Homo sapiens: one gene and its partners. The protein of the gene in region 4 interacts with the protein of the main gene of each other region in a pairwise test. Each region holds a gene or a part of one and is shown on either strand. Other genes may lie near its edges. The genes, in order: GPX8, RASGRP4, LDLRAD1, BNIP2, OTX2, CYB5R3 and GSC2.

Evidence for each region.
Region 1: the proteins of BNIP2 (region 4) and GPX8 interact in binary tests that used the Homo sapiens proteins (3 or more experiments, as listed by UniProt).
Region 2: the proteins of BNIP2 (region 4) and RASGRP4 interact in binary tests that used the Homo sapiens proteins (3 or more experiments, as listed by UniProt).
Region 3: the proteins of BNIP2 (region 4) and LDLRAD1 interact in binary tests that used the Homo sapiens proteins (3 or more experiments, as listed by UniProt).
Region 5: the proteins of BNIP2 (region 4) and OTX2 interact in binary tests that used the Homo sapiens proteins (3 or more experiments, as listed by UniProt).
Region 6: the proteins of BNIP2 (region 4) and CYB5R3 interact in binary tests that used the Homo sapiens proteins (3 or more experiments, as listed by UniProt).
Region 7: the proteins of BNIP2 (region 4) and GSC2 interact in binary tests that used the Homo sapiens proteins (3 or more experiments, as listed by UniProt).

Annotation. Positions count from the first base shown.
Region 1 is NC_000005.10:55,163,171-55,165,483, forward strand, and holds part of GPX8 (probable glutathione peroxidase 8), read left to right. Parts: intron 1-884; coding exon 885-1,048; 3' UTR 1,049-2,313.
Region 2 is NC_000019.10:38,419,720-38,423,219, reverse strand, and holds part of RASGRP4 (RAS guanyl-releasing protein 4), read left to right. Parts: intron 1-1,066; coding exon 1,067-1,251; intron 1,252-2,019; coding exon 2,020-2,125; intron 2,126-2,249; coding exon 2,250-2,312; intron 2,313-2,957; coding exon 2,958-3,089; intron 3,090-3,206; coding exon 3,207-3,360; intron 3,361-3,500.
Region 3 is NC_000001.11:54,011,687-54,015,186, forward strand, and holds part of LDLRAD1 (low-density lipoprotein receptor class A domain-containing protein 1), read right to left. Parts: intron 2,679-3,500; coding exon 2,550-2,678; intron 595-2,549; coding exon 457-594; intron 1-456.
Region 4 is NC_000015.10:59,668,821-59,672,320, reverse strand, and holds part of BNIP2 (BCL2/adenovirus E1B 19 kDa protein-interacting protein 2), read left to right. Parts: intron 1-1,006; coding exon 1,007-1,138; intron 1,139-2,958; coding exon 2,959-3,045; intron 3,046-3,330; coding exon 3,331-3,429; intron 3,430-3,500.
Region 5 is NC_000014.9:56,800,480-56,803,979, reverse strand, and holds part of OTX2 (homeobox protein OTX2), read left to right. Parts: intron 1-1,624; coding exon 1,625-2,245; 3' UTR 2,246-3,500. UniProt on the Homo sapiens protein: Transcription factor probably involved in the development of the brain and the sense organs. Can bind to the bicoid/BCD target sequence (BTS): 5'-TCTAATCCC-3'.
Region 6 is NC_000022.11:42,625,393-42,628,892, forward strand, and holds part of CYB5R3 (NADH-cytochrome b5 reductase 3), read right to left. Parts: intron 2,890-3,500; coding exon 2,760-2,889; intron 2,297-2,759; coding exon 2,213-2,296; intron 1,998-2,212; coding exon 1,912-1,997; intron 1-1,911. UniProt on the Homo sapiens protein: Catalyzes the reduction of two molecules of cytochrome b5 using NADH as the electron donor.
Region 7 is NC_000022.11:19,147,493-19,151,709, forward strand, and holds the start of GSC2 (homeobox protein goosecoid-2), read right to left. Parts: upstream 2,801-4,217; 5' UTR 2,792-2,800; coding exon 2,533-2,791; intron 2,425-2,532; coding exon 2,171-2,424; intron 1,604-2,170; coding exon 1,499-1,603; 3' UTR 1-1,498. UniProt on the Homo sapiens protein: May have a role in development. May regulate its own transcription. May bind the bicoid consensus sequence TAATCC.

The DNA of each region.
Region 1 (2,313 bases), on a different chromosome or scaffold from region 4:
GAGTGGTATAAATAGAAAAAAAATCTACATTTCTTACATAAATTAAGATTTATCAAAAGGATATCATGGCTGGGCATGGTAGCTCATGCATGTAATCCCAGCACTTTGGGAGGCCAAGACAGGAGGATCACTTTAGTGCCCAGGAGTTCAAGCCCATCCCGGGCAACACAGCGAGACCCTGCCAAAAAAAAAGTTATTGCTTTTCAAAATAAGGTGATTATTCACTTTGGGAGGCCAAAACCCTATCTCTACTCAAAATACAAAAATTTGCCTGGTGTGGTGGCACACACCTGTAATCCCAGCAATTTGGGATTACAACTTTGCTTCATTTTTTTTGGCTTTTAATTTTATTTGACACAGAGTTTCACTCTTGTCCCCCAGGCTGGAGGGCAGTGGTGTGGTCTCAGCTCACTGCAACCTCCACCTCCCAGGTTCAAATGATTCTACTGTCTCAGCCTCCCGAGTAGCTGGGATTACAGGTGCACACCACCACACCCGGCTAATTTTTTGTATTTTTAGTAGAGATGGGGTTTCACCGTGTTGGGCAGGCTGGTCTTAAACTCCTGATCTTAGGTGATCCACCCGCCTCAGCCTCCCAAAGTGCTGGGATTACAGACTGAGCCACGGCTCCCAGCCTACTTTGCTTCATTTCTTGATACTAAGATCACATACTAGATGAGTAGACTCATAGGTGAAGTCATCAAGTATATTGAAATCTGGTTACTCTAACCTTGAGTTTCACTTCGTTTGGGTGTTTTGTTTTTTATATTATGACAGTCCTAGAACTTGATACTAAAGTTATCATTTATGCAGATACTAATAGAAGTGAAAATCTTGACAAAGAATAAAATTATGCTCATGAAAATATGTTCTGGATATTTTAGATTCTTCAAAGAAGGAACCAAGGTGGAATTTTTGGAAGTATCTTGTCAACCCTGAGGGTCAAGTTGTGAAGTTCTGGAAGCCAGAGGAGCCCATTGAAGTCATCAGGCCTGACATAGCAGCTCTGGTTAGACAAGTGATCATAAAAAAGAAAGAGGATCTATGAGAATGCCATTGCGTTTCTAATAGAACAGAGAAATGTCTCCATGAGGGTTTGGTCTCATTTTAAACATTTTTTTTTTGGAGACAGTGTCTCACTCTGTCACCCAGGCTGGAGTGCAGTAGTGCGTTCTCAGCTCATTGCAACCTCTGCCTTTTTAAACATGCTATTAAATGTGGCAATGAAGGATTTTTTTTTAATGTTATCTTGCTATTAAGTGGTAATGAATGTTCCCAGGATGAGGATGTTACCCAAAGCAAAAATCAAGAGTAGCCAAAGAATCAACATGAAATATATTAACTACTTCCTCTGACCATACTAAAGAATTCAGAATACACAGTGACCAATGTGCCTCAATATCTTATTGTTCAACTTGACATTTTCTAGGACTGTACTTGATGAAAATGCCAACACACTAGACCACTCTTTGGATTCAAGAGCACTGTGTATGACTGAAATTTCTGGAATAACTGTAAATGGTTATGTTAATGGAATAAAACACAAATGTTGAAAAATGTAAAATATATATACATAGATTCAAATCCTTATATATGTATGCTTGTTTTGTGTACAGGATTTTGTTTTTTCTTTTTAAGTACAGGTTCCTAGTGTTTTACTATAACTGTCACTATGTATGTAACTGACATATATAAATAGTCATTTATAAATGACCGTATTATAACATTTGAAAAAGTCTTCATCATTTTCAGTATTTCTCTCTGCATTATTTTTTAGAAGCAACTCAAATTCTGTAATCATAATATTACCAAGTAAGTCAGTCTTTATTTTTGCGTGAAAATCCCAAGTGTAGAAAAAAGGACATGAGTATAAGATCATTTAACTTGATTCCTTATAGGCTGATTTGGGTTGCTAATGTATTCGTACTAGATTAGCCACTTGGGAGGAATTCAATGCTGCATCATTCTGATAGCTGAAATAGTAAAAGTCAACTCCAAACAGCCTAAATTCTAGTATAAAAAGGGGGTGATCATACAAGTCCTAAAGTGTAGATCAGCAGTCACTGAACCTCTTAGAGTCACAAGGCATTTCTTCTCCCAAAGTCATGACCTTTATATTTTGTTAGCCTTATAATTGACTAACAAAGCAACCTGCCAAGTTGGTGAAGGTTAATTATTGCCTCATGAAATATACATTCATCGCATAAAAGAATTAAATAGGAAGATGGCCAAAAATGTAAAAAAGTCGTATAAATTTGTCTAAGAAGAAAAAGACCCAATTTAAGTAGTCTGTGACTTGACTCCCAAATTCTG
Region 2 (3,500 bases), on a different chromosome or scaffold from region 4:
TGTGGGAGGAAGGAGGGGAGGGTGTTAGAGACCAAACGGGAGCCCTGAGGAGGCAATTCCTGAAGGCAGGTCCTCCCATGCCTCTGCCTGGGGAGGACAGAAGAGATTCCAGGGGTCTTCTCCCGAGTCCCTGGTAGGCCAGGAGTAATCCTGGGATCTGCCAAAAGGAAGTCTCTTCCAGGATGCCCTGGAAGCAGTCAAGAGGAAGTTGGGGGCAATGCCTGGGGAAGGAGTTCTTATGATTCCCTGAGGGGTCTTGAGTGGTCCCAGGGGTCTTCTACTGTGATTCCCTGGGAGATTCAGAGCAGTCCTGAGCGGCGGTCCCCAGGCTTTTTGGCATCAGGGACCAGTTTTGTGGAAGGGGGTGGGGATGGTGTGGGGATGATTCAAGTTAATTACATGTATCCTGTGCTTTATTTTTATTATTATTACATTGTAATATATAATGAAATAGTTACGCAGCTCACCATAATGGAGAATCAGTGGGAGCCCTGAGCTTGTTTTCCTGCAACTGGATGCTCCCATCTGGGGGTGATGAGAGACAGTGACAGATCATCAGGCATTAGGCATCAGGCATCATAAACAGCACGCAGCCTAGATCATCAGGCATCATAAACAGCACGCAGCCTAGATCCCTCGCATGTGAAGTTCACAATAGGGTTCATGCTCCTAAGAGAGTCTAATGCCCCAGCTGATCTGACAGGAGGTGGAGCTCAGGCGGGGGTGCTTGCTTGCCCGCTGGTTCCTAACAGGCCACGGACTGGTACCTGTCTGTGTCCCAGGGGCTGGGGACCCCTGGTCTTGAGGATCTTCCTCTCTGATTCCCTGAAGGGAGCAGGAATATCCCTGGGAGTTTGCTTGTGGGAGAGGGCTCCCATGATTCCCCCAGGGATCTGGAATATTCCTGGGGATTCTCTCTAGAGTCCCTGGTAGGTCAGGGGTAACCCTGGGGCTTTGCCTTTAGGAAGCCTCTCCCGTGGTGCCTTGGGGCATTAGAGTCAAAAGGAATTCTAGGGTCTGTCCGAAAGAAGGTGCTCCCATGACTCCTTGGGGGCTGTGCCCACAGGAAGTCCCACCAGGAATGCACCGGAAAAATAGGAGGGCGAGGCCGGCCCCGCCAAGTGCGCCGCCACAAGACATGCCCCAGCCCTCGGGAAATCAGCAAGGTCATGGCTTCCATGAACCTGGGCCTGCTGAGTGAGGGCGGCTGCAGCGAAGATGAGCTGCTGGAGAAATGCATCCAGTCCTTCGGTAAGTGTCCTCTCCCCAGCAGCCTCCCTGGCCCTAACCTCGGGCTCAGCACTCGCTTCTCTCCACCTCAGTTTTTGGAGGTAAAATGAGAACAGGGCTGGGTGGAATGAAACTCAATCACTACATTAGAGATAACAGAAACACCTGCATTTCTTCTTTCCTGAAATGGAAATATATACATTTATATATATATATAATATATGTGTATATTATATATATTTATATAAATCTTTTTTCTTTTCTTTTCTTTTTCTTTTGAGACAGAGTCTCGCTCTGTTACCCAGGCTGGAGTGCAGTGGCCTGATCTCAGCTCACTGCAACCCCCACCTCCTGGGTTCAAGAGATTCTCCTGCCTCAGCTTCCCGAGTAGCTAGGATTACAGGCACATGCCACCAGGCCCAGCTAATTTTTGTGTTTTTAGTAGAAACGGTGTTTCACCATGTTGGCCAGACTTGTCCCGAACTCCTGGCCTCATATGATCCGCCCGATTCAGCCTCCCAAAGTGCTGGGATTACAGGTGTGAGCCACTGTGCCCGGCCAGTCTGGTGCTATTTCAATCTTCAGCAAGACTTGCCAGGGGTGATGCTGCCCCATGCACAATACAGATAAGGAAACTGAGGCACAGGAGGTTAGGTTGCCTGTCCAAGGTCATGCTGGGGATCACCGTTAGAGCTGGTCTTTGAACCAGGTGGTCCGGCAGGATCTGGAGCTACGCTCTGCATTGCTTGAGGGCCATTCTGTCACAGAGTACCCCTCCTTCCACCCCAGATTCAGCTGGCAGCCTGTGCCACGAGGACCACATGCTCAACATGGTGCTGGCCATGCACAGCTGGGTGCTGCCGTCCGCCGACCTGGCTGCCCGCCTGCTGACCTCATATCCTCCAGGACTGTGAGCTATGGGTGGAGGGCAGAGGGCAGAGTCGTGAGAACCTGGGCAATGGGAATGGGGAGCAGGCAGGTCATGGATCCTGGAAAACAGAGCCTTGACCAGAACTCAAATACCAGAAGGCCACAGGGGACACCCAGGAGCTGAGACGGCTGCAGATCTGTCACCTGGTCAGGTAGGGCTGGGCCGAGATCCCCACTCTCAGGACCCACGACTTCCATCCTGCTTCCCCCTCAAAAAACATTCCTCAGAGAATCCCCAGGCCAGTTCCCACAGACCCAACCAGCCCCACAGGCCAAAATCCCACTTCTGAGACACCTGTAGCTTGGTTCCTAAGACCCTCTTAGTTCCGTTCCTTAGAACCCCCACTTCCTAGAGACCCCCCTCACCAACCAGATCCCATAGACCCTCCTAGCTGGTGCCCAGAGACCTCCAACTCTGATCCCCAAAATCTCTACCTCCCACAGACCCCAGCCTAGCCCATAAGACCCCCTCATTCTGTCCCTCCAAAAATTTCACCCCCGGAAGCCCCCAGTCTAGTTCCTAGGACGCTCCACGATCTTGCTTCCCAATAATCCCACTTCCAAGTGACTCCCCGGTCTGTTTCCCACAGATCCCCCCAGTCTCTGTTAAGAGACCCCCATCCTACTCCAGAGATTCTCCAAGCCTGGTGCCCCTCCAAACCCCAACCCTCCAGGGACCCCCACACACATTTAGAGACCCCCTAGCTCAGCACCTAGAAATTCCTCAGCCCAAAATACCCCTTGTAGAGACCTTCGCCACCCCCGGCCTCATCTCACCATCTCCAAACCACTCTCAGGTACTGGCTGATGCGACACCCTGAGGTGATGCACCAGGATCCCCAGCTAGAAGAAGTCATAGGTCGTTTCTGGGCCACCGTGGCCCGGGAGGGCAACTCAGCCCAGAGAAGACTGGGAGACTCTTCTGACCTGTGAGTCAGCCCTGTGCTCCCCTCTTCCCTGCCCCATCGCCATTCTGCCATCTCCCTCTATATCCCCAAGCCCTCAACTGTGAGCCACTCCAATACCCTGCCCCTCTTGGCCCCCAGCCTGAGCCCTGGTGGCCCTGGCCCCCCACTCCCAATGAGCAGCCCAGGCCTGGGCAAAAAGCGCAAAGTGTCCTTGCTTTTCGACCACTTGGAGACGGGGGAGCTGGCTCAGCACCTCACCTACCTGGAGTTCCGGTCCTTCCAGGCTATCACGGTGAGGACCCCCTCCCATCCCCGTCCCAAGCAGGGGAGACACTGGGGTAGGGGAGGGATTGGCTGGGGGAAGGTAGGACTGAGAGGACACCTGCATGGTCATTCGGCAGAGATCTCAAAGTCTTAAACTCAAACCTGTAT
Region 3 (3,500 bases), on a different chromosome or scaffold from region 4:
CTAGGCACTGGGGCCCCGATATCAAGCGGACTGGGCCTGCCTCAGAGGAGTTCACAGTCTGATGGGGGTGGCAGATGTGCCAATCAAGAGCGACAACCAGTGTGACAAGGGCTGGGACACAGGGAATCACAGGGACTGTGGAAGCCCAAAGGAGACACTTTAACCTAGTGTGGGAGTCAGGGAAGGCTTCCTGGAGGAGGTAACATTTGAACTCTGCCTTGAGGGATGAATACGGGTTCTCTGGGAGTGGAGACGCACAGGGTGAAGGCATTCCTTAGTGGGGGCATGTATGTGTGTCCCTGACTGGGACCAGGTCGGGGCAGGTGTTCCTGGATGAAGGCACTGGAGCATCAAAGCCATGGGGACTTGAAGGTGCCTGATGTGTTCAGTATGGATGCCAAGAGCATCGGAGTGTGGGGGAACCCCTGGGAGGGGCAGCACCGAGCGGGTACTCACGGCACAAGCTCTCATCCTCGTCCTCGCCGTGGGTACAGGTGCGAACGCCATCACAGACCCCACTGGCTGGAATGCAGCTCCTCTGGTCATGGCACAAGAAGCCTGTCCTGTTTGTCAGTGTTATACAAGCTTGGGCTCCTGAATGGGCAGGGAAAGGCCCTGGAGGGTCAAGGGTGGTGCTCACAAGGACAAACCTTCCTCACCTGAACTCCGCCTAGAGCTGGCCTGAGGGGCTGGGGCAGTGGGGAGGATGGACCCAGCGCCATCAATGGGGTTCAAGCCCCAGCTGTACCCGCTGCCGGCTGCCTGATCTTGGGCAGATGACCTGACCACCCTGAGTCTCAGGTTGTTTGCAACATGGGAATCATAGCACACACCCCGTGGGACTGTTGTGGGGATTAAATGAAAGCATCTCTGTGAAGAAACATAGAACAGAAAATGTGCAGAACTAGTAATGGTTCTCTCTTGTATTGAAAACTTATTTACAGTGTCATGGGAAGCTTCTGAGGACAATGTTCAATTCAGTGAAGTGGTTTTAATGGTGGAGCTCCTGGTACCAGGTTAGAGTGTCAGAAGCAATATATTTGGGCTGGCTGGAGGGCCATATGTCATAATTCCTTCTATCTGGGCACAACTGCAAAGCACTTTCATATCTTTATTCTATAGTTCCCCAAACACCCCTGCGACACGTCATCATTAGCCCCCCATATGGGAGGAGAAAAGGAATACCCACTCCTAGGGCTGCCCCAAAGAATTAAAAGGCAGAAACCTACGGACAAGGTAGGAGGAACCCCTTGGCCCCACATGTGTATACGTGTGCATAATTGGGGATGGGAGCCAGTTTGTGCATTTGTGTTTGTGCATGCGTGAACCACCTCTCAGTCCCTGGGCTGCCTCAGCTAGTGTGTGTGGGGGAGGCGGCGGGGGGGAGCAACTCTCAGAGACACTCATGTTGACACAGACACACACAGATGCACACACACATGAACACATGCTCACACACACACTGCTGCACCTATGTGCACACTCACAGATACACAGACAACAGATGTGCACACACGCACTGACACACAGACATGAACATGCATACACAGCTGCGTACACTCATAGACACGCTAAACACACAGATGTGCACACAGGCTCTTGACTGCAGCTGCTCATGTATTCATCCACCTCAGGGTCTGTGTTCCTGCAGGGCAGGGGGAGCGCTGCGAATCTCAGCCCCCGCCCCCACCTCAGCCCTCTATACCCACCCTGCCTGGCTGCAGAGCCATCCTTCAGAAACATCAGCCTGCCCCCAACTTGCCCCCAACTTAATCCCCTTTCTGTGGCTCCTGGACTATGACCTCCCTTCTCGGTGCAGCCTGTGAGGCCCTTGGCACTGGGCCCCACTTGTCACTCCAGCCCTTCCTGTGCACTGGCCTCTTGCAGTCTCTTCTTCTCTTCCTGCTTCCTCCCACCCCTCAGGGCTCCACACATGCTGTTCCCTGTGCCTGGGATGCTTTTCCTGGCATCCCCCCACTACTAATACCCATTGTTCCTACCCTGACTCCTCAATGGGGCTAGACTCTCAGGGCTCCCAGGGACCCCGCTGTAATGTGTATTCACGTCTAGACGGCTCTCGGAACAGTTATTAGCTCCTTGAAGGCAGGCACTGTGTTGGGGTTGTTCACCCCTGAAGCTGGGGCTGCAGGCATGTATGGGATGTCACCCGGTCCCCTGTGGTGGAGATGGGCACACAGTTGGATAGCACCACCCCGGGGTGGCCAGGCCAGGGGAAGAGGAAGTGTAGGGACTGGGGGGCTGAGAAGAGGCTCGTAACCCATCCTGGGGGTCTAGGAAGGCATCCTGGAGGAGGTGACATCAGAGCTGGGTCCTCTCAATAATCATGTCACAGATGTGCAAATGGAGGCTCAGAAACAGGTATAGTCAGTGTGTGTGCAGGTGTCTGTGTGTGTCTGTGCATGCACCTTAAGGAATTAGTCCAAAGTCACCTGGTGGAGAAGCCAGGCAGGTCGGGGCTCCCTCATCTCTCTGTGCCCTCCCATGCCCTCCCCGCCGGGTCTGACCCACCCTCTCTTGGCCGCCCTGACCTGGGGTGCATGATGGGAGTCCAAGAATGGTGACCAAGGCGATGAGGGCCGCCACAGTTGCCAGGAGGAGCAGCAGAGAGGCAGAGAGGCAGGCCCCGCGACGTGAGCAGCAGAGGTGGCCGCCGCCTGCTGTGTGGGGGGGAAACAAGCCCGGGGGTGGTGGTGATAGGGGGCCAGCGCTAGGAACAGGGAGCTCCCTCTCCGCCCTGCCCGCTGCAAGCAGCCTCTCCCCCACGAGGGTGAGCAGAGCAGGGATGGCTTCCCTGGAGGAGCAGCTCCCAAGCCCTCCTTGATGCTCTTTGTTCTGCCTGTGGGCCCACCCCACTAGGTGCCACCCTGGCCAGGGGCCCACAGCTGGCTGAATGGCAGAGGCGGACAGCCCTCCCCTCCCACCCGCCATCAGGAGACTTCCTCAGGACGCAGGGAGAGATGGACGCCTGCATGTCCAGCCCCCACCTTGGGGCAGAAGCTCCATTAGGCCCTTCATAAGCGTGCTTTATTTTTCAAAACAACCTTTTATTTTATCAATGAGGAAACTAGGGCTCAGGAAGAAAAGATTCATGTCACCCTGGGTGGAGCTGGCGTGTGAATCCACACCTGTTTGATGCCAAAACCCGTGCCCTTTCCACGATCCCAATTGACTGTCCATTCTGGAGTCTGCTGGGATGCAGGTTGGAATCCCAGCTCTACCGCATCCTACCTGGGCCACACTGAGTAAGCCACTTCACTTCCCTGTGCCTCAGTTTCCTCATGTGGAAAATGGGTACCATAATAGCTACCTTAGACTTTGTTGAGAGGATTAGAATTTGTTGAGTTAATGTGCACAGAGTAAGTGTTGAGTATGAGCTATTATTATTGCTTTTTTTAATTATTATTTTTTATATTTTAGAGATAGGGTCTGGCTCTGTTGCCCAGGCTGCAGTGCAATGGTGCAATCTAGTTCACTGCACC
Region 4 (3,500 bases):
CCCTGGGTGACAGAGTAAGACCCTGTCTCAGAAAAATAAATATCCCAGATCTTTTCACGTGCAAGTTTGTGAACAACAGAATGAAGGTTAAAGTAAAAGTATTTGTTACTAGATACAGGACTAGATGAGTCCTTATTCTTTGATATTATGGAACGATAGTTTTCCAATTCAAGAGAAAAATTGTCATTTTAAAACTGGGAAATATATCTCAGATTATTTGTTCCAACTTTGTTTCGTTTTGTTTTGAGATGGAGTTTCACTCTGTCACCCAGGCTGGAGTGCAGTGGTACAACTACGGCTCCCTGCAGCCTTGACCTCACGGGCTCAAGCCATCCTCCTACCTCAGCCTCCCTAGTGGCTGGGACTGCAGGCACATGTCACCACATCCTGCTGACTTCTTAATTTTTGGTAGAGACAGAGTCTCACTATGTTGCCAGGGTTGGTCTCAAACTCCTGGGCTCAAGTAAGCCACCATGCCTTACCTGTCCCAACTGTTTTATGTTAACATTTGCAGGCACATTAAGTGTAAAGAAGTGATTTTTGTCTCAAAATCATGTGGCTAAATTACATTTACCCCTAGAAGGCCAATATAATTGAGCCAAATCAGTTCTTTTTCCACAAGGTCATTCTATTTCTCAGGTTAGTGCAGTTTTTAAAAACCGTATTGTGGAAAGTTTCAGACATACACAGGGGTAAAGAGAAGTATATCAAATCTTCATGTATCAGTCACTTCAACAATTACCAATTTATACTTTGTTCCCACTTCTAACCCCCAGTTTACAAGTTTGAAGCAAATCCCAGGAGCAAATCATTTCACCTAGAAACATTTCAAAATATATCTCTAAAAAATAAGATAATCGTAATACTAGCTAATGCGGTTTGAGCATTTTCATTGTTGCTCTCATTGTAGGAGAGAGGAAGGAATTGTATAATGGTACAATTTAGAGAACCTAGTTCAGTTATGCACAGTGATTTTTAAGGCTTAAACTTAATTTGTTTTTTACAGATATGTTATTGGCACTTTGGAGCTATTAGTAGCAGAAAACTACATGATAGTTTATTTAAATGGTGCAACAACTCGAAGAAAAATGCCCAGTCTGGGATGGCTCAGGAAATGTTATCAGCAAATTGATAGAAGGTAATACAAATACAAGTTGAAAGCTAGTCTGAAAAAATTTTATAATGGCTTTAGGAAATCAAACTTTGTTTTTCGTTGCTATTTTTTTTTTTTAACTTTTTTTTTTTTTGAGACGGAGTTTCACTCTTGTTGCCCAGGCTGGAGTGCAATGGCACAATCTCGGTTCACCGCAACCTCCACCTCCCAGGTTCAAGCGATTCTCCTGCCTCAGCCTCCCAAGTAGCTGGGATTACAGGCATGCGCCACCACGCCCAGCTAATGTTGTATTTTTTGTAGAGACGGGGTTTCTCCATGTTGGTCAGGCTGGTCTCGAACTCCTGACCTTAGGTGATCCACCCGCCTCGGCCTCCTGAAGTGCTGGGATTACAGGCGTGAGCCACCGCGCCCAGCCTTCTGTTGCTATTTTAAAACACCATTTATTTTTTAAATTTTATTTATTTATTTCATGGCAGGTTTCTGTTTTCTAAAGATAGCATTTTAGAATATTGTGAGGGAAATCAATTTTGATTTTTCTATAAAGAATAACCTTAATTCTTCAAACTTACAAAGTAGCTTTATATTTCTCCTTATTTAATTGAAGACTTTCTCCTTATTTATAAGATGCAATTTTCTCCACATTGAACACTTTTTTTCCTATTATTTACGTCTTGGCAAAGGATGGAGAATGTAGTATGTTTCCTATTTCATTACATTGAGTTTTGCCTAATTTATAGTGCTTAGCATGTTTTATGTTTTTGTTTTTGTTTTGTTTTGAGACAGGGTCTCACTCTGTCATCTAGGCTGGAGTGCAGTGGTGCAATCTCTGCTCACTGTAGCGGCAACCTCCCAAGCTCAGGTTATTCTGCCACCTCAGCCTCCCAGGTAGCTGGGACTACAGGCATGTGCCACCACACCCAGCTAATTTTTGTATTTTTTGTAGAGACAGCGTTTTGACATGTTGCCCAGGCTGGTTCTTGAACTCCTGGACTAAAGCGATCCACCTGCCTCAGCCTCCCAAAGTGCTAGGATTACAGGCATGAGCCACAGCGCTCAGTATTTATGTTTTTTAATGGTGCTTATTTAGTTGTAATCTTTCTTTGGAACAAGCTTTAGAAGTGTTTTGTCTTGGGAGTTAGTCATCAGTACTTAATGGAAGGAATGTGATCTTCCGATTGGTTTGATCTTGCTGTGGCTAATTTAAATCAAGTCAGACCCATTAATAGGTTTCTCTTCACATCTAAATTTGACATTGGCTAGCTCTTATGATTATATATGTATCTCACTTTATGTGTGAAATATGCATAATACAAAGAGTATTTAGTCATTTAAAAAGGAGAAGTCTAGGATAAAACCTTTAATTTTTAATCAAAACTTTAAATTCCTTAAGAATAGGAGTTAGATCTGATTTGTTTTTGTTCCTGTGGTCATCTTCTCCACTCACACTTCTCTGCCTGCACAGTGCTTTTCATGGTTTTGAAGAACTTAGCACCAATTTCTCCCTAGTCTTGGAAAATGAGAATAGTTTACTTTTACATTCAGTATTGGCCTCTTTCCCTGTTTACAGAGTCCTGAAGACAAGTGAATGTGTATGCTAGGAGACATTTAGTAACAGGCTATACTGTGGACGTAAATCTGGCCAAATGAAGTAAAGTTCATTTCATAGCAGTAGGAGGGACCATAAGAATTTAAGAGTGCATTTTCTTGTCTACAGGGGTATCACACCTAATTGAGAACTTTTGGGTGAGATTTTTCAACTATTATTTTGTATAAACTTGCAGCATTAGAATTTATAGAAATTTTTAATTTTCTTTGTGTGTGTGTGTTTTTTTTTTAAACTCCAGGTTACGGAAAAATCTAAAATCCCTAATCATTGTACATCCTTCTTGGTTTATCAGAACACTTCTGGCTGTTACAAGACCATTTATTAGGTAATTTTTGAGAGCCATTGACTTTAATTTTATTTTTTTTATTTATTTATTTTTAGTTAACACATAATAACTATACATACTTATGGGATACAGAGCTATATTTTGATATGTGTATACATTGTATAATGATCAAACCTGGGTGATTAGTACATCCATCACCTCAGACATTTATCATCTTTTTGTGTTTTGAACATTCAAAATGACATGATTTTTGTATCTTGTAAACATTGTATCCATTGTATTTGTCAGAAATATGGAAGTAATTATTTTTATTTTCTTCCATAGCTCGAAATTCAGCCAAAAAATTAGATACGTGTTTAATTTGGCAGAACTAGCAGAACTTGTCCCCATGGAATACGTTGGCATACCAGAATGCATAAAACAGTATGTTTTGTTTTATTTCCTTAATTGTATTGGATCTTAACATTTTGATGTGCAATGGATAATACTTTTCA
Region 5 (3,500 bases), on a different chromosome or scaffold from region 4:
GGTTGCTGGTGGAGAGAGACCCATCCTTGAGCAGGTTTCAAGAGTAGTCACGTGGTGTTGTAACCCTTCCCTTCCTCTGTATAGAAATCCTCTCCTATTCTCATGGACTTGTACGTGTGAAAGCAGCTTAGCTCTTGGACAGTCCAAGTATTTTTACAGATGAAAAAATAGAGTAAATGACTTGCTCAAGGTCATAACTAAGTTTGGTGGCAGAGTCAGGGTATAGACGCAGCTGGTGCTTTTACCAAATAAATCAACACAAAAAGAATGTATTTTCCTTGACTTCTTAGGGATTGAAGAGAATTTTCTAGTTCTGAGCCATTTAACAGATAAAATATCTACATAATGTCTCTAGTGACACCCCTCTTGTTTTAGTTCCCCTAAACTTGACCTTAAACTGGAGAGGGAAGGTCAACTCCAGCTTGCCTTGTGAGTGAGCCCTGTACAGAATTCTCTGCAAAGTGTTTAGCACATAAACCACATACACACCTGGGCCTCTCCTTCGGCTAGAATATGTTTATGAAAGCGACAGACATCAGTGTCAGCTGCAAATTGGGAAAGGGGCTTTTTCAAAGTAGGTTAGAGGAAGTTTTAGCACTTGCAAGGCTTGAACCAAAGTCCTCACTAGGAGAAAACAAATGGCTCCAAATGGTTGGTGGTCTTGAGCTTGGCCTTGGTGGCCTCACTTTTACCACAGTTACGGCACCCATACAGAGAGCTCATTCAAAAGTTCAGCTAAGGATTTGTCCTCCAGAAAATGCCAGTAGTTCCTCTTCTAAGCCCCCTCGTACACCAATCATAGCTCCTTCATTGCAGAACATGAACAGGGCTGGTAAAGAGAATTGTCAAGATTGCAGCAGGGGGTTGAAGTGGTAAGTCAGTAAACACAGCACAGGAGACTGAGTCTATGTGCTGAGTGGCACTACTCTAACAACACAGACTCGAGTCCCAGAGACTAGCAGGTCTGTGCTCCAGCTCAAAGCAGAGTGCATGTAAGTCACTCCTTTTACCACAAAGAAGCTTTTAGCAAATAGTGGCTTTCAGACCTCTTTCTTCAACAAGATCATGTCTTCCCCTTGGAGCTTTGTTCTGTGAGTCTTTCTAAGAGAGACAGAAGGGTGATGGAACCAACCAACCTCTATATTAGCAGTTGCTTCCTGGAAGATGAACTGTAAATGAATTTAGGCTGTTCCTGTTAGCCTGTAACAACAGAATTGCTTTCTCTCACTTCTCATGTATTTCCCTCCAAAAGACAGAGATACATTCTATTCCTCTGTGAGAGTGTTCCAAAATATAGCTGGGTCTATGTGTATGTGTGTGTTAGAGGCGAAATAAGATAGGAAAGTGATGTGGAGAGTTTTTAGCTATATGATTTGGGGGATTATCTTAAATGTTATTCTGGGCAAGAAATAAGACAGTGTCAAGTGTTTTTAGACAGAGCCTCCCCAACTTTCTTACAAGTCCAGGAGTTTATATGAGAGTACCACATAATAGGTCTTCAGTGGCAGGGGAAATTGTGTGTTTAGCTGATCTGCCCATGTAGGATAGATTTATAATACGGGAGCCATTCTTGTCCTTAAGGAACTATCAAAACCGAGTTAAAGAATTTTCTTTCCCTTCCAAGGTATGGTTTAAGAATCGAAGAGCTAAGTGCCGCCAACAACAGCAACAACAGCAGAATGGAGGTCAAAACAAAGTGAGACCTGCCAAAAAGAAGACATCTCCAGCTCGGGAAGTGAGTTCAGAGAGTGGAACAAGTGGCCAATTCACTCCCCCCTCTAGCACCTCAGTCCCGACCATTGCCAGCAGCAGTGCTCCTGTGTCTATCTGGAGCCCAGCTTCCATCTCCCCACTGTCAGATCCCTTGTCCACCTCCTCTTCCTGCATGCAGAGGTCCTATCCCATGACCTATACTCAGGCTTCAGGTTATAGTCAAGGATATGCTGGCTCAACTTCCTACTTTGGGGGCATGGACTGTGGATCATATTTGACCCCTATGCATCACCAGCTTCCCGGACCAGGGGCCACACTCAGTCCCATGGGTACCAATGCAGTCACCAGCCATCTCAATCAGTCCCCAGCTTCTCTTTCCACCCAGGGATATGGAGCTTCAAGCTTGGGTTTTAACTCAACCACTGATTGCTTGGATTATAAGGACCAAACTGCCTCCTGGAAGCTTAACTTCAATGCTGACTGCTTGGATTATAAAGATCAGACATCCTCGTGGAAATTCCAGGTTTTGTGAAGACCTGTAGAACCTCTTTTTGTGGGTGATTTTTAAATATACTGGGCTGGACATTCCAGTTTTAGCCAGGCATTGGTTAAAAGAGTTAGATGGGATGATGCTCAGACTCATCTGATCAAAGTTCCGAGAGGCATAGAAGGAAAAACGAAGGGCCTTAGAGGGGCCTACAAACCAGCAACATGAAATGGACAAACCAATCTGCTTAAGATCCTGTCATAGTTTTAGATCATTGGTTATCCTGATTTGCAAAGTGATCAAAAGCATTCTAGCCATGTGCAACCAAACACCACCAAAAATAAAATCAAACAAAACTAAGTTGTGAAGGAAGGGAGGGAAGGTCATAGCCTTCTTAAGCAGAGGTGTTCCATTGTTTTAGCCAATCCTTGGTTGAATCTTAGGAATGAACAGTGTCTCAAGCTCATTCACGTTTCATGACCAACTGGTAGTTGGCACTGAAAAAACTTTTCAGGGCTGTGTGAATTGTGTGACTGATTGTCCTAGATGCACTACTTTATTTAAAAAATAATGTTCATAAGGAGTCAATATGTAGTTTAAGAGACAATCAGTGTGTGTCTTATAAATGGTACATCTGTGGTTTTTAATCTGTGCTAGACTTCAAAACTGTGATCTCCTGTTATTGTATGCAACCTTGAACTCCACCTCTGCAGGGGTTCTTCTGTGATTAAATAGGTTATAATTATAAGCAAAATTCAGAGCAACTGAGTACTGATCTAAAAAGATTACCTTTGGCTGGAGGTGAGCTGCACTGAAACTTTACGACAAAATGTCTCTGGACAAAGAGAGTCAGAGAAGAGAAGCAAAAGGACACTAATTCATCTGTAATTTACTGTTGGTAAGCCTAGCAGTAAAGAGACATTGGTCAATTGCTCTGACCCTGATGAATTATTAAACTGAGATCATTGTCGTTTATGCTTGCAGATGTTAAATGGAAAAGTTATATATGCATAAACCTTTTCTTCCTGGATTTGGCAGATATGTATAATTATATTAAAATGGTTCTAGCACAACATTGGGTCCAGTTTAATTTTACACCGCTATTTATGAATAAGAAGCCTACATTCAGCCTTTCCTCCCCAAAACACGTTTTTCTTAGGACAGAGAGTAAATTAGCAAACTTATTTTTACTTTTTTTTTTTGCTAATCTATGCATAAAATAGATATGAATGACAGTGGTAGGTAGACTTTTTGTGACTTTCATCAGGATTGCTCTGAAATTGAGTTTGGAGAGCCTAAC
Region 6 (3,500 bases), on a different chromosome or scaffold from region 4:
AGCTACTCAGGTAGCTGAGGCAGGACAATCGCTTGAACCCGGGAGGCGGAGGTTGCAGTGAGCCGAGATTCACGCCATTGCACTCCAGCCTGGGCAATAAGAGTGAAATTCCGTCTCAATTTTTTTAAAAAAAGTTATGTCTTCCTCTCTGAGCTAAAGTGTGTCTCATGCTTTAATCCTCACCACCATCCTTTGAGGTGGCCACCGCCGCGACCCACCTGACAGATGAACAGAGGGATGGAACCTTGGGGGGCTGCTACTCGAGGGTAGGGGGCTCCCAGCTCAAAACCAGGCACTGAGGTCACGGAGGAAGGTAGGAGAGGAAACGAGCAGCAATGACCCGACTGGCACGGTTCTCGGAGTGTAGCATGGGGACCCCTGGGGTTGGGACCCTGGAGAGGATCCCTGAGGCCAAATGGTTTTCATATAATACTGAGACACTGGTATTTTTCACTCTTCCTCTCTCAGTAGATGGGGCCACTTTCCAGAGGCTGCGTGACTGGCAACATCACACAGATGGGATGTAGAAACAAACACAGGAATCTAGCTGTCCTATGAAGCCAGACATTCCAAGGTTTGCAAAAACGTAAAACAGAATGATGTTTTCTAAAATAGTTTTTTAAAAATAAAAATAGGCTGGGTACTGTGGCTCACGCCTGTAATCCCAACACTTTGGGAGGCTGAGGCGGGTGGATCACCTGAGGTCAGGAGTTCGAGACCAGCCTGGCCAACATGGTAAAACCCCATCTCTACTAAAAATATAAAAATTAGCCGGGCATGGTGGCACACATCCTGTAATCCCAGCTACTCGGGAGGCTGAGGCAGGAGAATCACTTGAACCCGGGAGGCGGAGGTTGCAGTGAGCCAGGATTGTGCCATTGCACTCCAGCCTGAGGGACAAGAGCGAGACTTTGTATCAAAATAAATAAATAAATAAAACCCTGGTTTGCATCCTGGTTTCAGCACTTCCCACGAGACATGCACAGTCAAGCCCCTCCCGGAGCCTGTGTTCGGAGGTATGAGATGAGGCGACCACACTGCCCTCGCTACCAGCTGCAAAGATGGCCTGTACAGGTGACAGACGGTCTGACGGCCTCCACAGACTCTGAACCAGCACCACCAAGTCTCACTGCTGCCCTCTCTCCCTCCACACCAGCCAGCTTAGAATTTCTGGCTCTTTCTCCCCTGGGCCTGGCAAGGCCATCTTGGTTGGCCTTGCGGCAGTTTTCTGCAGCTGCGGGGAGGCAGGGTGGGGCAAGGACCCACATCCAAGGACCTCAGGCAAGCATCTTCTCCCCCAAATCTACGTCATCAGTCACAAAACACTAACCTGAAAAGACCTTGCAACAACCCAGTTTCATCAGCTCATTCTACAGATGAGGGAGTGAAGCTCAGAGAGGGAAAGTAGCTCGTCCAAGACCACACAGCAGGCCAGGGCGGGCAGGCAGGCAGTGGGCTCGTGGACAAGGATATGAATCAGGAGCCAGAGACACCAACATTCAAATCCTGCCCTGACACCCTGTAGCTCAGGGGCTTCGTGCAAATGTCTGGTCATTTGTAAGATGGGCCCCTCCATGTCCAGGCCAGCATTCTTCCCACTCTACCAGTGGGTTCCACACCGTGCTCATGGTGAAGGGAGTTCTGAGTTTTGGAGGAAGCAGCCAGGGGAGGGGGTGCTCAGGGAGCTCCCCGCAAGGCAGCCCCCTCAGCCAGACACAGGCGCTGCACCACAAAGCCTGCCCGCCGTGCTGCTGCCAAGGCCGCCAGTGCACAGAACATTCAGGGCCCCCCATCCCGGTCATCCCCAGAATCTCAGCAGAGCTGTGCAGACCCCTGGAACAGCACCTGACCAGGCCCGAAGTCCCCTCTCAGGGTAAGCTGAGTTTCCCCATCATGGGGATGCCCACTGACCTGGTTGGCAAAGAGCAGGTGGCACACAGTGTGGTCATCAGGGTCCTTCATGATGGCGCGGATCACCTGCAGCATCGGGGTGATGCCTGCAAAATAGCCGGCCGGGCCTCGCACGTGCTGAGCGAGGCCTGTTCACAGGCACCGCCCCGCCCAGGTGTACTGGGGTGGAGGGGCCAGGACCACTGGGCCTGGGCCCCTGACCTCTGGTAGCTCCCAGGCACTCAGAACCTGCGCCTCACCCACACCCCAACCCCACCCTTAACATGAGCCGCCGGACGCCTCAGTGGGGGGTTCCGTGTACCTGTCCCTCCCGCGATCATGCCCACAGACTTCACTGTCCTGATGATAGGGTTGGACTTTTTGTCAGGTCGGATGGCGAACTTCCCTGGGGAGAGAGAAGGGGTGAGGCCCGGCCATCAAACATGCCATGTGTGGTGGCTGGAGAGGCTGGAGAGGGGGCTGGAGAACCTGCCCCCACTGTGAGGTCCGAGGTAGAGGCAGCTGCCATTCTAACGCGAGCCATGAGGAAGGTGCAGGAGCAGTGGAGAGGCTGGGAACCCGGAGGCTCAGCTCTGTCCTCTTGCTTGCTTGTTTCAGATGCTGAGAAAGCCAAATAGAGGCTGGCAGTGGGTGAGACGTGGCCCCCAGGAGTGGCCTGTCTGCAACCCCTGTGCCAGCAACTTACCCCCTCTACAGCCAGGGAGACTCAGTTCCCAGAGAGGGACAGCTGGCCTGACGAGAGTCACCCATCCACACAGAGCCAGGGGCCTGCACCCTGCACCCAGCACGCCCAAGCTCTCCAATTCTCTGAGCCTGCCGTGTAACCAAGGGATTCCGACCCGAATCACCTTTGCCCTGGTAGACCAGCAGCCCACTGGGGCCCCGGAACTCAATGGTGTCTCCAATCTGCATGCTCTCCAGGTACTGAGACATCTTCCCTCCAGCGGGAAACTTGGGATGGGTGTCCTTGAAGTAAACCTGCAAGACACCCCCGCAGCCCTCAGTCCCCAGCTCCAGGTCTCAGGGGCGAGCTCTTGCCCACAGTGGGAGACAAGTGCCTCTTCTGCAGCTTCTTCTGAGGCCCACACATGGCCTTCTCCCGTGGAGCCCCATCCACCCAGCCGTCAAATCCTACCTGTCCTGCACCCCGTCCTTCACCCCGTCCTCCCAGGAGTCAGCCTCCACCTGACATATCCGGGGAAAGCAAACCACCAGCCTCGTGTACAAGGCCGACCAACTCCAGGGCTGGATGCACTCACATTTCACCAACTGTCTCTGGGGCCCCCTCCCAACGGGAGACACTGAACCCGTCAGCAAAGTCAAGGCTCTGGGAGGCCCACTAAGCCACACTCCTCCTGGTGGACACTCAGTCCCTTCCGTTTTGTGCTGTCGCTAAAAACCTCCCTCACTCTTGGGACTACTTCCTGCCCTGCACTCTCTAGGATTACTGTCTTGGGAAAGAGAAGGGCCTCAATCCGACACCTACAAAGAAATGGGGAGACAGAGGAGGAGCGGCTCACCCTGCCCAAGGAGTCTGATGGATGGAGAAGGGGAAGGTGGCTGGGGGAGGGACAGCGTGTACACAGTGC
Region 7 (4,217 bases), on a different chromosome or scaffold from region 4:
GATGGCCATTCAACCAAGGAACTCAAGGGGCCTGGAGCCTGTGAGATGCGAGTGTCCCCAGCTGCAAGGGAGCTGACTGGGACACGGGCATGTCCACAGGTAGTCTGTTCAGTCCCCAAGGGCAAGACCAGGGTTCAGGGAGAAGGGCTTTGTGTGCATGCTAGGGGTGGAGGCGGGGATGCTAGGGACACCCAGCAGTGTCAGGGCAGTTCTGACTGGGGACACCATGCTTGCTTGGTGTTATCCAAGCTGGCCAGCCTTGGGGTGTCTGGGGAGCTGCAGCCCTGGCTTCTGCAGTCCTGCTTTTAGAGATGGACTTCATCTCTTGCAGGTAGAATGGCCCCATTCCCTGCAGGGCCTGTAAGGAGACAGAACGAGGTGCTCAAGCCAGCTGGGGGTGGGGATGTGAGATGCTTTGGACCCACTGTAGGGCCTACTTGGGGAATCTAAGGCTTCTTTCCACTGTGCCTTTTGCCATGGGCCAGGATAAAGAAGGGGAGGGCAGGCATCTTCCCAGGCAGCAGGGGCGGGGTCTCCCCAGTCCAACCTCCTCTTGCCCTACCCTAGGATGGCACAGATTGCTGTGAGGGAGTCCGAGCCCACAGCATGAAAACCCCAGGAGGAAGCAGGGGACCCTCACCCATGGGCAGGTTCACAGTAGCCTAGAGGCCAGGGCTGGACCCCAGGGGTCCAAGGCCACCATCCGTGGAGCAGTCCCCTCTGCTGGGGAGCACCCTGGTGCAGAGACTGAGGATCGCTGAGCTGTGCTCCTCTCAAAGACAGCTGTACCCTAAATACCCCCTCGCTGGGAAGGAAGAAGAAGGGACAGCTCCTTGTTGGGTGTGGGAGTGGAGCCAAGGTGGACTTGAGACTCTGGGCGGCTTCTGTGGTATTTGAAGTTGCTAGTTTCTCAGTATCAGCGCGAGGCTCGAAGGTGAAGGGACTGTGGAGGGGCTCCTGGAATCGCTCCTGCGACCTTCTTATTCTACAGGTCCAGATACCAAGACCCAGCCCAGGGCCTGGGAAGCCTGCAACGCCAGGACTGCACAGACACGAACCCCATCCCCTCTCCCGCTGGGGGAGGACGAGCCAGGTCAAGTTAGGTCAATGTCCACATTGAGAAGAGGGTGGCCAGCATGTCCCAGGGTGCGGAGAGACGCTCCACTGCGTAGGATTCTGGGTCCCGTGTTGATACGGGGTGGTTCCCCTCCTGCGGTGGAGTTAGTGTCTCTCGGGGGGTAGGGAGCTGAGGAAACTGCTCTATGCCCCAGCCCACCCCCAAGGGACTCGCCACTCCCACTGCCGTGGAACACCAAGCACCGGGGGCCCGTCCCCAGCGCCACGGCAGCACGAGCTGCAGGAGGCAAGGGCTGTGGAGACGGGTGGAGGCGGCCGGTGTACTCTCCCAGCTCCTTTTCGGGTAGACCTGTCTTCTCTCAGCGCCAACTCCAAAGATCCCAAAAAGGGTGGCCGAGCCCAGGGGCAGCTCCTAGAGTCATCAGCAGCTCCCCTTCGGGGACTTCTTGACGCCGGGCAGGAGCCTCGCGGAAGCCGACGCGCGCTTCTGGTGTCGCCATTTGGCCCGGCGGTTCTTGAACCAGACCTGGGGATGGGGGGAATGCTCAGCCCTAGCCCCAGGTCCTGCGTCCCACCGGCTCCCGAGGGTCCCACAGGGACCGAGAGGGGAGCTTCGCAACAGGGATGTGGGCGGACGGCGCTGTAGAGCCGACACCCGGGCCGCGGCTGCGCGCCACCTGCCCTTATTCGCTGCGGACAGACTCGGTGGGTCTGGACGCGAGATGGGAACCCCCTTAGTACCCGCCCCAGCCTCCAGCTGGCGGCGACCAGGACGCCCCTTCTTGGGTTGCGGGCTCTTCTGAATTTCCCAAATTCTGGACGTGAACGCGGGCCTCTTTCGTCACCAGAGGAAAGTGTAAAACAAAAGAAAAGAAAAGTAGCCCTCCGGTTCCTTTCCCGCGGCACCTCCCTGCTCTCACCCGCTCCTCATACCCCCGGACGCCCAGCGCCGTCCAGGGACCTCCTCCCTCCGGCGCGCCAGGGCGGGGCTTGGGCCGAGGCCGTCTTTGCAAAGGGCGCCCGCCCGCCAGGACCCCAGTCCAGTGTAGCCGCGGCCCGCGCGCTCCGGGGAAAGGCTGGGCGGGGCACTCACCTCCACGCGCTCCTCGCGAAGGCGGATGCGGCCGGCCAGGCGCTCGCGCGTACTCACGTCAGGATACTGGTTCTGCACGAAAAGCGCCTCGAGCGCCTGCAGCTGCTCTTCGCTGAAGATGGTGCGGTGGCGCCTCGTGCGCCGCTGCGAACCCGGGCCGACCGCGCCCGGGAGCGCCCCGGAACCTCCGGCTGGCGCACCCAGAGACAAGGGCACCGCCGGTCCCAGCCTCAGCGGCCACGCCAGACGAGCGCCTGCGGAGCGAGGGCGCGGTGAGGCGCGGGGCTGGGGCCAAGCTCGGCACCCACTGCGCCGCGCCCCGGGCTCCGCCGGGCCCCGCGCCCCGCTCCGCGCCCACTCACCCAGCCCGGCGGCCGCCTCTGGGGGCCCGCAGGGCGCCGCGCGGGGGCCGCAGCAGCAGCAGCAGGCGCAGGGCGCAGCCTCGGGCGCCCCGGGCTCCTCTGGCTTCGCGGGGCTCTGGCGACCGGCGGGCTGCGGTGGGCAGGCGGCCCGGGCCGGGAGGCTCCGCTCGGGCAGGCTGGAGAGGATGTGCTCGATGGAGAAGGGGCAGGGCCGCCCGGCACCCCGGCGGCTCGCCGCGCCCCCAGCCGCTGCCGCCATGCCCGGCCCGGCCGGGGCGCCGCCGCCGCGGGAATATATACGTCGGGGAGGGAGCGCGCAGTAATCCCCGGGCCGGGCGTCCAGTCCACGCGGGTTAATCCCGCAGCGCCGGCCGCGAACGCGCTAATCCTCGACTGCGGCGGCCCTGCCTCCGCGCGCGGGGGCCGGGGGCGCTGCAGAGAGGGCCCCCTGTGCCCCCCACCCCGCCCCGCGTCCTCCTGCCCCACCCGCGCCCGCCGCTCAAGCTGGCAGGGCGACCTGCGGGGAAGGGGCGGAGGGCCGCCTCGCCGCCGCCCGCGGGGCCTGGCAGCCGCTCGGAGGGCGCCCCGACCCTGGCAGCTCCCCAGAGCGCGGCGGTGCCTCCCGGCCCAGCCTCTGGTGGCTCCCCCTCGTTCGGCTGGGCCTAATTCCTCGTCCCCTCTGGGGCCCTACTGCGGCGGCTCAGCACGCCTGCAGAAGCTCGGCCTAGCCGCCCACCCGAAACTCCTGGACCGCAGCCTCCATGGGGCCCAGCACCACCGGCAACCGCACGATCCCGCCGCGCTCGGGTCCCGAACCTGCCCGCCACCTCGGAGCCAGGGTCTCATGGCCCTGGAGGGCGTGAGAGCGCGGCAGGAAGCCTGGGCTGCCGGGTGCCCCCAGTTCTCCGTCTCCTCACCTGTGTCAAGGAGACCTCCCCGCCCCTTCCGAGGCCCCTCCTCGGTGCTTCAGAGCCGCCTGTCCTCCAGCTTTCCCACTGGTCCCAGAATCCCCGCGAAAACATCCAACACTGCACCTCGCCCTTCCCCGCACTGTCACTGCCCCCCAGAAGCTGTGGGCTCCCCCTCCTCGCTCTCCGCCCAGGCCAGTCCTCTGGCCACACCGTCCTCGGTCCCTTCTGCCACAGCGCAGGTGACCCGCACTTGGCTACATTGTTTCACCCTCAGTGAAGCGGCTCCTGGCAGCGGGACCGTCACTTCAGCTTAAGACCCTTTCCTCTTGACCTTTGAAAATACAGTATGGGACTCATAGCACAGAGAAACAGACGGCCTGGCTCATACTCCGTTGTCAATTTCTGGCCGTGTGACCTCCATAGGCGTCTTCAGCCTCTGGGCTTGGCTTTCCCAATCTGTAAAGTGTAGTGACTAGGTGTGAGACGGTTAGAACCTGGCCGCCTCCCCAGGGCAATGCGTATTCCTGCGCTCCTCCCGCCGCCAGCCCCTCTGCAAGACTCTGCCATCCCCACTCTGCTATCAGTGAAAGTGCTGTGGACATCACTGTGACCGAACCTGCTGATTTAATTTCTGTCACAAGAGCTCCCACATAGGTTTCCCAGGGGTAGTCTGGAGGCTCAGTGATGAGCTGCCACCTCCATGAGTGGCTCTGTCAACCCCTCCTCCACCCACCTCTTGGTGGTAGAATGGCTGCCACAGCCCCACACTTTTCA